Regions from separate parts of the Homo sapiens genome. Here all the other regions are linked to region 2. Evidence: fine-mapped expression QTL. A gene starts in region 2. Each other region holds a variant in brackets. All regions are shown on one strand. Distances are from middle to middle. Region 1 overlaps LOC105374217 (a long non-coding RNA gene). Region 2 holds the start of PLD1 (phospholipase D1). Region 3 overlaps PLD1 (phospholipase D1). Region 4 overlaps PLD1 (phospholipase D1).

Evidence for each region. PIP is the estimated chance that this variant, and not a neighbour inherited with it, causes the effect.
Region 1: its variant is fine-mapped to the expression of PLD1 in whole blood (TOPMed, PIP above 0.99).
Region 3: its variant is fine-mapped to the expression of PLD1 in tibial artery (GTEx, PIP above 0.99).
Region 4: its variant is fine-mapped to the expression of PLD1 in lung (TOPMed, PIP above 0.99). The same link has a PIP of 0.9 or more in whole blood.

The regions. Positions count from the first base shown.
Region 1 is chr3:171,977,043-171,979,660 of GRCh38, reverse strand. The region is part of intron 3 of LOC105374217 (a long non-coding RNA gene); the gene reads right to left. Among named protein-coding and RNA genes, the nearest start is that of FNDC3B, 61 kb to the left of the region's middle. The variant C/T (reference allele first, on the strand shown) is at 1,533.
Region 2 is chr3:171,809,260-171,811,877 of GRCh38, reverse strand. PLD1 (phospholipase D1) reads left to right here and starts at 1,395. Exons shown (of 27, transcript NM_002662.5): 1 at 1,395-1,479.
Region 3 is chr3:171,769,590-171,772,207 of GRCh38, reverse strand. The region is part of intron 1 of PLD1 (phospholipase D1); the gene reads left to right. Among named protein-coding and RNA genes, the nearest start is that of PLD1, 40 kb to the left of the region's middle. The variant C/A (reference allele first, on the strand shown) is at 1,389.
Region 4 is chr3:171,787,338-171,789,955 of GRCh38, reverse strand. All of the region lies in intron 1 of PLD1 (phospholipase D1), which reads left to right. Among named protein-coding and RNA genes, the nearest start is that of PLD1, 22 kb to the left of the region's middle. The variant G/A (reference allele first, on the strand shown) is at 1,048.

The DNA.
Region 1 (2,618 bases), 170 kb before region 2:
AATGATTTCTTTATTCTATGAACAGCTAGGAGGAGACATAAACTTGTCAGTTAAAGAGTTCTTTTAGCAATATCTTTAGTTTAAAGCAGACACTTGGGTTAATTTGTACATTTTGGGTAAATATGCAGTGTTTCTGAGTTCACTCCCTTTCCAGGTCTTCTCACCAACATTGTATCTGGCTATAGATGGAATCCGCGCGGTACTGGAGGTCGGGCAGGGAGAGGGGTCACTAGTCCTTGGATTATCAGATTAAAATAGGCCCTTGATGGTCTCCAGGATAATGTCTCTTTTCCCTCTCAGTTATAGGGAACCCTGCTGATATCTGCTACTGACGTTCATGGTTGTGAAACTTATGCTCATTCTCTTGATTCCACCAGGACCTTAGGCTGTTGCTGGTAGTGCAGGTCCTTTAGTTGCGGCAAAAGCTGACAGAGTTGGGAAAGTTTATTCTAACTCCATGCCTCGGTGGCCCTATGGCAGGTTCACTGGCTCTCTACTCAGCCATCCCTAACAAGACTATGTGGGGACTCATGAGTCCCTTCTACTTCACATGGGAGACACGAGAGACCTTATGGGCACTTTTCCAACCTTCTTTCCACCTTCATCTGTTCCTCAGCTACTTCTAAGCAGCTTGGACAGTTCCATACTAAAGCTCTGGTTCCTCTAAAGGACTTGAATTTATTTCAGTGTCTATCCGAAGAAGTTAGGAAAGGCTCCCTGCTCTGGAAAAACCTCCAAACATATCTGATTATCTCCATCTACACACTTGATTTGATCCAAAAGGTGGGCAGAGAGAATGCTAACTTGTATAGGTCTTGGTATGTGTCGAATTGTGTTCCCTAAAAAGATATATTGAAGTCCTATATTATCTATTGAACCCTTAGTATCTCAGAATGTAATGTTATCTGGAAATAGGATCATTGGAGATGTTGTTAGTTAAGATGAGGTCATACTGGAATAGTTTGGGCCTTTAATCCAATATGACTGGTGCCTTTATAAGAAGATGAAAGATGACCTGTTAAGGCAGAGTCACAGAGAGAGACCATTGCGTGACAACACAGGCAGAAATTGGAGCGATGCAGCGGCAAGCCAAGAAATGCAAAGGCTCGATGGCCATTATTAGAGGCTAGGAAGAGTCAAGGAAGGATTGCAGCTAGAGTCTCAGAGGGAGCACGTTCCTGCTGACACCTTGATTTCAGACTTCTAGCCTATGGAACTGTGCAAGAATAAATTTCTGTTGTTTTAAGCCACCCAGTTTGTGGTACTTTGTTATGGCAGCTTTAGGAAACTAATACAGTTCCCTTATGAAAATTAGAAAGTGAGATCTTTCAGAAAGATATCCTTGGACAAGGGCTGCCAATCTTGGTAAGTGAAACAAGGCTTGGATACCCACCCTCACTTGACTCCTTGAATAAACACTGCACAACCAAGTACAGTGGCCCTGGAATCAGAAGCTAAGACCCAAATATCTGAATGCTTCTTTTCTTCTACTTCCCTTATCTTTTTATTTCCTCCTCAAAGAGTTTGTACTT[C/T]CCCTTTCTCTCTAGGTAGACATGAACTTCTGTTACATCATATCCTGAGTTACTGCCATGGTTCATGTTAGAGCTCTGTGGACTGAGTCAATTGTGGCTGGCTATTAAGACAGTCTTGCTACGAATTAAAGATAGATAGATAGATAGATAGATAGATAGATAGATAGATAGATAGACAGACATTAAACTTAGCCATGACTATTTTCTTTATCTCAGTTATCGATTGCTACATAACAAATTGCCACAAAACTTAGTAACTTAAGACAACAAACATTTGTAATCTTCCACAGTTTCTGAGGGTCAGGAATCGGAGACCAGCTTGTCTGAGTGGTTCTGACTCAAGGTCTCTCCTGAGGTTTTAGTCAAGCTGTCACTCAGGGCTACAGCCTCTGAAGACTTGACTGGGACTGGAGGATTTGTTTCCAACGTCATACACATGGCTGTTGGCCGGAAGCTTCAGTTCTTCACCATTGGGCCTTTCTGTAGGGCTGGTCATGACCTGGCTTCCCCCAGAACTAGTGATCCAAGAGAGACGCAGTGACCAAGACAGGAGCTGCAATCTTGGGAGTGACATAGCATCACTTCTGCCATGTTCCACCGGTTATACGACTCTAGTACAATGTGGGAGAGACTACACAGGGTGGAATACCAGGAGGTGGGGATCATCAGCGTGGTCTTGGAGGCCATCTACCATGCTGTCCTACCAGTGTTCCTCACTGAGAGTAGCACTGAAGTTAGGGTAGGACAAATCTTTGTTGGGTAGGACTGCCCTAGGCATTGCTGGAGATTTAATGTCCCTGACCTTCACCCACTAAATGCCAGCAGCATTCCACAGACCTGTGACAATCATAAGTGACCGTGAACATTTCCCAGATGGGTGGTATTCACCCCCACCTGACAGCCTATCTGCTATTTGAGTCAGAAGGACTTAGGCTTTGGAAGTTAATATAAATGTAAACATATCAATTTATTATTTTCAAAAATATTACAACCATTACACTGGCATCTTCTCATAGGGTTTGAAGTAATTAAGGGATTTCCAGTCCTATAAGACAGGCCTATAGTTTGAAAGAGCACTGAACTCGG
Region 2 (2,618 bases):
GCTTCTCAACCAAAAGCATTATAATTTCTAAAGACAAGCTTGTAAGAATGCAGTTACGTGTGTGCACAAGACTTATCAGACCATCTGTGACTAATAAAGCTTGAGAAAGAGGGGAGGAGAGAGGGTATTCTGCCTTCCAGTAACATGCTTGTCTGAAACTTACTAAACTCCTCTTAGGCAATACTCTGCTCAGAGAGTCATGTGTTTAATTGTAAAAATCTGTCAGTATCATAGGATTCAAAAGACATCAATCATTTATGTCAACAAGGAAAGAGTGAGGGCTGTGTGACTCTTCTATCATTAGGAAAAGATGTGCTCAAGAGACAAAAATGTGGTCTAAGGAGGGCTGAGCAACTGTAGGTTACAGGAAAACTGAGTTCCAGACTATAATTTGGCCCCCCTCCCCTAATTTGGACTGGTATATTATATTTTTCATTTCATGCAATGCCATGTGTGCAGTAAGACATTATGTAACTTGGTCAGTCGCAGTTGTGTAATATCCACTAAATGCTTTAAAGTGGCTGACGTTATTAGCAGTTTGGTGCATGGGGAGGCCATTGCTTCCCCTGGCTTTGGCGGGATGCAATATCGTGTAATGAGGTTGGAACTGGCCTATATTCAAAATTACATTCCCAAAGGGCTGCTATTCAAGCCACATGACAACTGGTTCTCTTTTTCTTAAGACTTTATTCTAAGTGGACTGAAAACAGCAAAATTGCCGTGTTTGAACGGTTCCATAGGTGGAATGGGTCTTTTCCCTGTTTTGCTCCCAATTTATTATTTTATGCTAAGATTTCTGAATTATAACCAGTTTTAGAGACATCGGGACACAAATTCCCGTCCCCCTCCATCTAAGCTGTGTGACCTCGGGCTGGTTCTGAGCCTTCATTTCCTTACCTGTAAATTGGCGATAACACTTCCCTAAGGAGGTGCAAGAAGGCTTATAAAGACTCCAGCAAAGCTCCAGTCTCTTAATTATGTCACCTCAGGCAAGTTATTTAGCCGTTTGATTTGCTGATTCCTTACTTATAAGTTGGACCAGTTGTGGCTACTATCCGCAGTAGTCGAAGAATAGATATCATAGGCAAAGCTCCGGGAAAGGTGGCTGGTCCTTGGCGGCTCGAGAGGACCTGATAATGGTCCTAATAGCGAGCATTCCCTAGGGTGATGCGGTCGAGTTATGAAACTTTGGGAAAAGAGAACAAGGAACGCGGGCGATCAGAGGCCCAGTCGCGAGACCTGCCCCGCTGGGGCCTCCAGCCGGCACCGCGACGCCCCGGGACCTGGCACCGCCTCGCTCCACCCCTGCGAATCCGGGGCGAATCCGGGCGGAGAGTTCCTGCCGGCCGCGCAGCGCAGAGCCCCCTCCGGCCCGCCCTCTCTCCCTCCCTCCCGCTGAGCTCCAGCTGTGCCAGAGGCACCCGAGCCCTGAGAGTCCGCCGCCAACGCGCAGGTGCTAGCGGCCCCTTCGCCCTGCAGGTAGGAGCCGCGCCGAGACCCGGATCACCGGGCGCCCGTGGGAGCCGGGTTTCCACTGCCCTCGCCCTCCGTCCCTCCTCCGCCCAACCTGGGCAGCTGGCCGCTCCCCGCCCAACTTGGACGGGATTTCAGCGAGTGAGTCGGCGGCGGACTCCCTAGCGATCCCCAAGGGCCTCCCTCGCACGCCTTCGGGTGGAATTCCTGCAGGGTGAAAGCTGACAACTCTGGCACGCACTTTTGCCGCGCGGGCGGCTGCCTGGAGCGCAGAGCCGCGCAGGCTCAGGCTGAAGCCCAGGCGTCCTCTGCAGGATGCACCGCCTCGCCGCCACAGGGCTTCGGGTGCAGTGTGTGTGGTGTCCCCAGGTCATCCGGGCGCCCTTGGTTCGGGTGCGCGGTGGCATGACTGGGCTGGTGGGGGCGATGGGACCGGCATCCCGTACCAACCAGGAAGTGCCGCGTCCCAAGGCTTCGAGCCCAGCCCGCAGAGCACGGTCCTGGGGGTGTGATCACAGCTGCTGACCGCGGCTCCCGCCGTGTGATGTGACCACTCGGAGGTGGGGCGAGGGGGCCGGGGGCCAGCAGCAGGGAGTGTGTAAAAGGTCTTCTTCCTCACAATACGATTGAAGGTGTTTGGGACGTAGGGCTCAGATCCAGGAGTGCCGTCCTCCAAGCCTTCCATAGGATTTTGTGACGCCCTTGAGAACCGCCCTTGTAGACTCAGTCCTGAACTACCGCCACGCCTGTATTTGCTCCTCCTCATCTCGGATTATTGCTTTCTTTACTTCCTCTGTGAAGCACTAAATACTAGTAGCTTTTTAAGAACAGACCACAACAGTTTCTTCGTTTGACCATTACTAAGTCTGCCTCCAAAATGGGGAGTTCCGTTAACTTTATCAGCCAGCCCTGCCAATTTTAGTTAAGATAAGCCTTCGTGGGCCTCCAAAGGCCTCTGAGAGACTAGGTACCCAGAGACCTCTGAGGTATGTTAAATGGTTTAGTTCGTGGTGGTGCAATGAAAACTTAAAGAAGGAAAGGAATCTGCAATTTGAACTGTTAACAGACCCCACATTTACACACTGCCTATTTGAATAAGAATCTCTTTCAGTATTAAATGTTTTGTGACACACAAATGAATTTGT
Region 3 (2,618 bases), 40 kb after region 2:
TTGGAGTTGAAAACTAGGGGAAAATAAGTATACTGTGAACACATTGTGTTAAAAAGCTGATGTTCTAACAATATGCTAGAACATTACTGACTCTGTTTTAAGATCTAACTGCTTTAAGGAATTGATTGACTACATTTTTCTAGAATGAAACATAAATTTCTTATTTTGAAATCTTAGTGAGTGGTATTAAGTTCCATTTTAAAAGGCAGCTTAAAGATCCATGTTAAAAGACGTGTCTTAGCTTATACATCCATTCTAAATGTAGGTGGTGAAACTGAATTATAAGAATGTTTTTAAGATTTATAGACACTAAGTCAGAATCAGAAGTTAGAAGGTTCTTTGACAAAATTTCCTATTGAACTTATGTTAATCGTTGGATTTGATGAGGTTTTTAAGCTTATTCAATGTTATCTGAAAATAGTAATACTATCTACATTTGATTCTCAGAAATGATAACTTCATATGTCCCTCTTATGCAATGTGAAATTACAGTGCTATCTGTTCCATAACTGCCACACAACTTGAACAATATAAAAGTCATTTCATGGCCCTAATGGAGGGCAGACTGTATCCCCTTGCTTAAAATTAATCATTCACTTTATTGCAGTGTCTGAGGGGAGAGAAGGGAGTGAGAGTTCTCTTTGTTTAAGTTTGTGTTATGGTTTTCTTGGGCAGCAAGTACAAAAGTGCAGCCTGAAGCTGTAGCTCATTCTGTATGTGGGTTTTATTTCTCACAGCAGTCCGGTGTCTCTTTAACATATGGGGAGTGGTTTCAAGTTCATTACTAAAGCTTATAGGCTAAAGTGCTTTGTGGGCTTGGCTATGACTTAAGTTGCCTTGAGGGAGTCAGCCAAAACTGGGCTTGGGAACAGGAAGGCTTTGCCCGTTTATTTGGATTCTCAGGGTAGTCGATTTTGCCACCTCTTGGCTATCAGCTGCCTTGGAGATTGGTTTCATAGTAAGGATTCTTTCTTTAAGGTGATATGGAGCAACTGCTTTCACAGGGGCACCAGGTTAGTAAATAACATTTTGCACTTTCTGCTGCGTGTGTCAGATTTTCTTTCTGAGCTCACGGTGTGATGATAGGACAGACTGGGTTGCTGCGTTCTTTTAGAAAATAATGTGAGTTCGTTTATCCTGCAGAGGTTTAGGGGGTTATGTTTCTCCTTATAATATATGCATTTTTTGACCATATTAAATACAACTGGAAGCCAAGTGGAAATGACATATTAGTATCTGTGTTGGATTTGCAGTCCAGAGGTCTTGTTAGTAAATATCAGCCCTGCCCCCGCCCCCTTTTTTTTTTTTTTTTTTTTTTTGAGATAGGGTTTTGCTCTGTCACCAAGGCTGGAGTGCAGTTGAATGATCATGGCTCACTGTAGTCTCAA[C/A]CTCTTGGGCTCAAGCGATCCTCCCACCTCAACCTCCTGAATAGCTGGGATTACAGGTGCATGCCACCGCACCCAGCTAATTTTTTTTTTTATACTTTTTTATAGAGACCAGGTTTTGCCATGTTGCCCAGGCTGGTCTCCAACCCCAGGGCTCAAGCGATTTGCCTGCCTTGTCCTCCCAAAGTGCTGGGATTACAGGCGTGAGCCACCTTGCCTAGCCTAGTTCCTTTCTTATAATTGCTTTCTTTGTGTCGTCGCACTAGACCTTCTAGGTATAAATATGATTTTATACACAGTTGATTTTATTTTTTGAAACGTTAAGTAGTGGAGTGTTGGGCCCCAGTTGGGGTTGTCCTCCCTCACCCCACTGGTGCGTGCTTGTCTGATGCACGGTTTTTCTTCAGGCCTACTCCTTGGAGTTTCAGTGAACCAGAATATCATTTTAATTTTTCTCTTTGAAAAGTCTGGCACTTTTCTGGAATGCCTCAAAATACTGGCATAAGAATTGATTCAGGCAGAATGTACAGGTGGATTAAGCCCAATTGAATTTTGTCTTCAGTTTTGCTGTTTTTATTCTCAAGTGATTCTTCAGAATACGAGATTACCCGAGGATTAAAGAACAGCTGTAAAAATGGAGTGTGACTTGTAAAACATAAAAGTATAGTTAATAGTAATTAAGAAATTAAGTCAATATAATTAAGCACAGAGAAAGACATTGTCTTCCTTAATCTCGTTAATTTAAAGATCTAAAGAGCAATTCTGCCTTTATTAATTTGCCACCAAAGCAATCTGGCATGAAATTGTTCTATAGGAGTAGTTCAATTTGGTGTTTTAAAGTTTGCAACACTTTATGAAATATAGTTTCTCTTGCTTTCATGTTACTTTAAGGATGCTTTAGTTCAGGGTAATGTACTAGTGTTTTAAATATGCTAATATGCTTCTGTTATTGCCATTTTATTCTCCTTTTTTCCCCACTGCGAAATACAGTGTATTAGAAAGGGTCTGTTCTTTCATGTTCTTCTCTGCTTAAAAAAAATTGAGGGGGAAGGGAGACAGAAATAGGTACTTAAAAAAGATCTCTGAGGTGATATGCTAAACTTTAAGGATCCCTTTCCCCATCAGTGCTAAGTTGAAGTTACAATGTTATGGCTGCATGCCATTTCGGGATTACAAAGTGGACTGTATTTTATACCCCCTAAGGCACAATTGTACAGCTGTGTTATTGCCCCT
Region 4 (2,618 bases), 22 kb after region 2:
GAGAATATCCTTTGACCCTACGTGGAAGCCTACAAGAAGGGGAATTCTGGGCAATGTGGTTCAGCCCAGCCACATCACATACTATTATTTAGTAGTCATGAAGAGAGAGACATAGGTAAAAACAGCAGTTAGTATTTCTTCATTCTGATATCTGGCAGCAAGTGAGTGATGCTACCATTATCGGCTAAAATCAGGAACTGGTATTAATGCATTTTGTTTTGTTTTGTTTTCTGCTTTATTCTCCTCTGTCATAGACAGTGAAGAGTAAGTGAAGAATTTGAGGGTCATCAGCCATTGTGAACTCATCAAAGTTAGTAGCACTTAAAATTTGCTTTTAAAATGAATGGAAAGATGTCCAAGTTTTCAATAGCACAAATATTTTTTTCTCATTTGTACCTTTTTTTTGTCTTTTGTATACAGATATTCCCACTCTGGCCACTGCCCAAAGGGGCTCTTATCTGAGGAATACTGCTGACTTCGTGTACCTAGTTTTACAGAGCCATCTTTCTGAAGCATAAATTAGATTACATTATTCTACAGCTTAAATCCCTCCATGAACTTCCCATCACCCAAGAGTGGATCTGAAACGCCTTAGAGTGTCATTCAAGACCCTTCTGTATGTGGCTGCCATGCATTTTTTTCAACTTTATTTCCAGCCTTGCAATGTACATACATCCATCTCTGTCCCACGCCCTCTGCAGGGCTTTTTGGTTCCAGAACGTGCCATGTGCTTTTCTCCTTTGGAGCTCTTTGAATAGGATGCCCTTCCTCCCTTGTCTGCCTGTAGATAGAAAAATCCTGTGCATTGGTGAGTTGGCCCTGACCACCATTTTCTTAGCATGCTGAATTACTTCTGTTCCCCTCTGTGTTTGCACAGCTTTGTTTGTGCACAGTAGACTTTTGGCTGGGCCATGTAGACTGCCTCCTCCATGAGTTTGCCAGCTTTTTGAGGACAATGTCTGTTTTATTCATCCTCGAATTCTCAGTGCCTAGCAGAGTGCATAGCACAGGGTAGTTATGCAATACATATTGGAGTAAAGGAATACA[G/A]TTCAAAAAAACAGTCTCATTAACAGATGCAAACCAACTCCTCTCATGACGCAGAGAATCTAAGCTCAAACAAATTACCAGAGTTGGCAGTTGAAGTACTATATATAGACAGAACTTAATAAATGCTTTTCTTTGTCTTAAGCCTTTGATGACAGTGATGTGTTTTTATGAACGTAGATAACCACAAGCAGATGTGTCAAAGCTCTTTTGTCCAGGAATAAACTGAGTTTCGTCATCATCTTGACAGTACTTTCCTGGATGAGTGTTCAGGAAACATGAAAAGTTTTTAAACAATTCAACAAATGTGTAATAAAAGTTTGTTACCTTGTTTTATTTGTTGTTATATTGTCTCTTGGCTTGAGTTTTTATTTGGGAAGCTAATAGAGAGACGGGATATTAGAAAACCAGAGGCAAACTGCTTGGTTTATTGAAGCACTAACTGAATGAATGCAGGTATACGAGTAATCCAGGAATCCCATGCATTAAGGAAAAATTTATTTCTATCACCTCTGTATTGTTGTTACCTTGTGAACCTGGCTTGGTTTTTTCAGCAGTTGGTAAACTGATAAGCCTGTTTCTCACTCTGTCATTCATCTCATCAGTTTACCAGCCCAGAAATACTCCTTTCAGTCTTTACAAAAAAAAAAAAAAAAAAAAAGAAGTGCAGATGCACTCACAAACACAAAAGTTAATTTATTATTATTTTTTTTTTTTTGAGATGGATTTTTGCTCTTGTCACAAGGCTGGAGTGCAATGACGCGATCTCAGCTCACAGCAACCTCAACCTCCCGGGCTCAAGTGATTCTCTGGAGCAGCTGGGATTACAGGCGTGTACCACCATGCCCAGCTAATTTTTGTATTTTTAGTAGAAATGGGGTTTCACCATGTTGGCCAGGCTGGTCTCAAACTCCTGATCCCAGGTGATCCACCAGCCTCAGCCTCCCAAAGTGCTGGGAGTATAGGCATGAGCCACTGCTGCACCCGGCTGAATTTTTTTCTTGAGGCTGACAATCATACAATTTTTTTTTTCTTACAAAATATTTTTCTAGTTTTTTTTTTCTTAAAAAAAACCAAGTTGGTTCTAATAATATCTAAATTTCATTAAATTACCAGGGAAAAAATATTTTCTTTTCCTAAATGAGAATTCAGTGATAATATGCTTGCTGCTCCATAGAAGGTGGCTGTTCTTTAACTTGTATCAACCTTCCTTGTTTGTACCATGCCCCCAACACACATACACATACCACACCATACCATGAATATTAACAAGGGAAAAATGGCCTGAATTTTATTTTCTGGGTATGATGACATTCAAATGAGTTATAAAATATGCAAATGTATTTTAGATTCCTTTCTTGGTGCACAAATCCATAACATTTTTCTCCTAGGTTGATAATATGGTCATGAAGTTCTTGGGTGCTGCATTTTGTACAACCAGCTCTTGCAATGTGAGAGAACCATCATCCACTTGGGGGCACCCAGGTACTTAATGAAAAAAAAAGAAGGCATTGCCAAGAGAAAGTAATTTGATCACAAAAATAAGGGAAAATACTCAGGGTAGATAATCTATT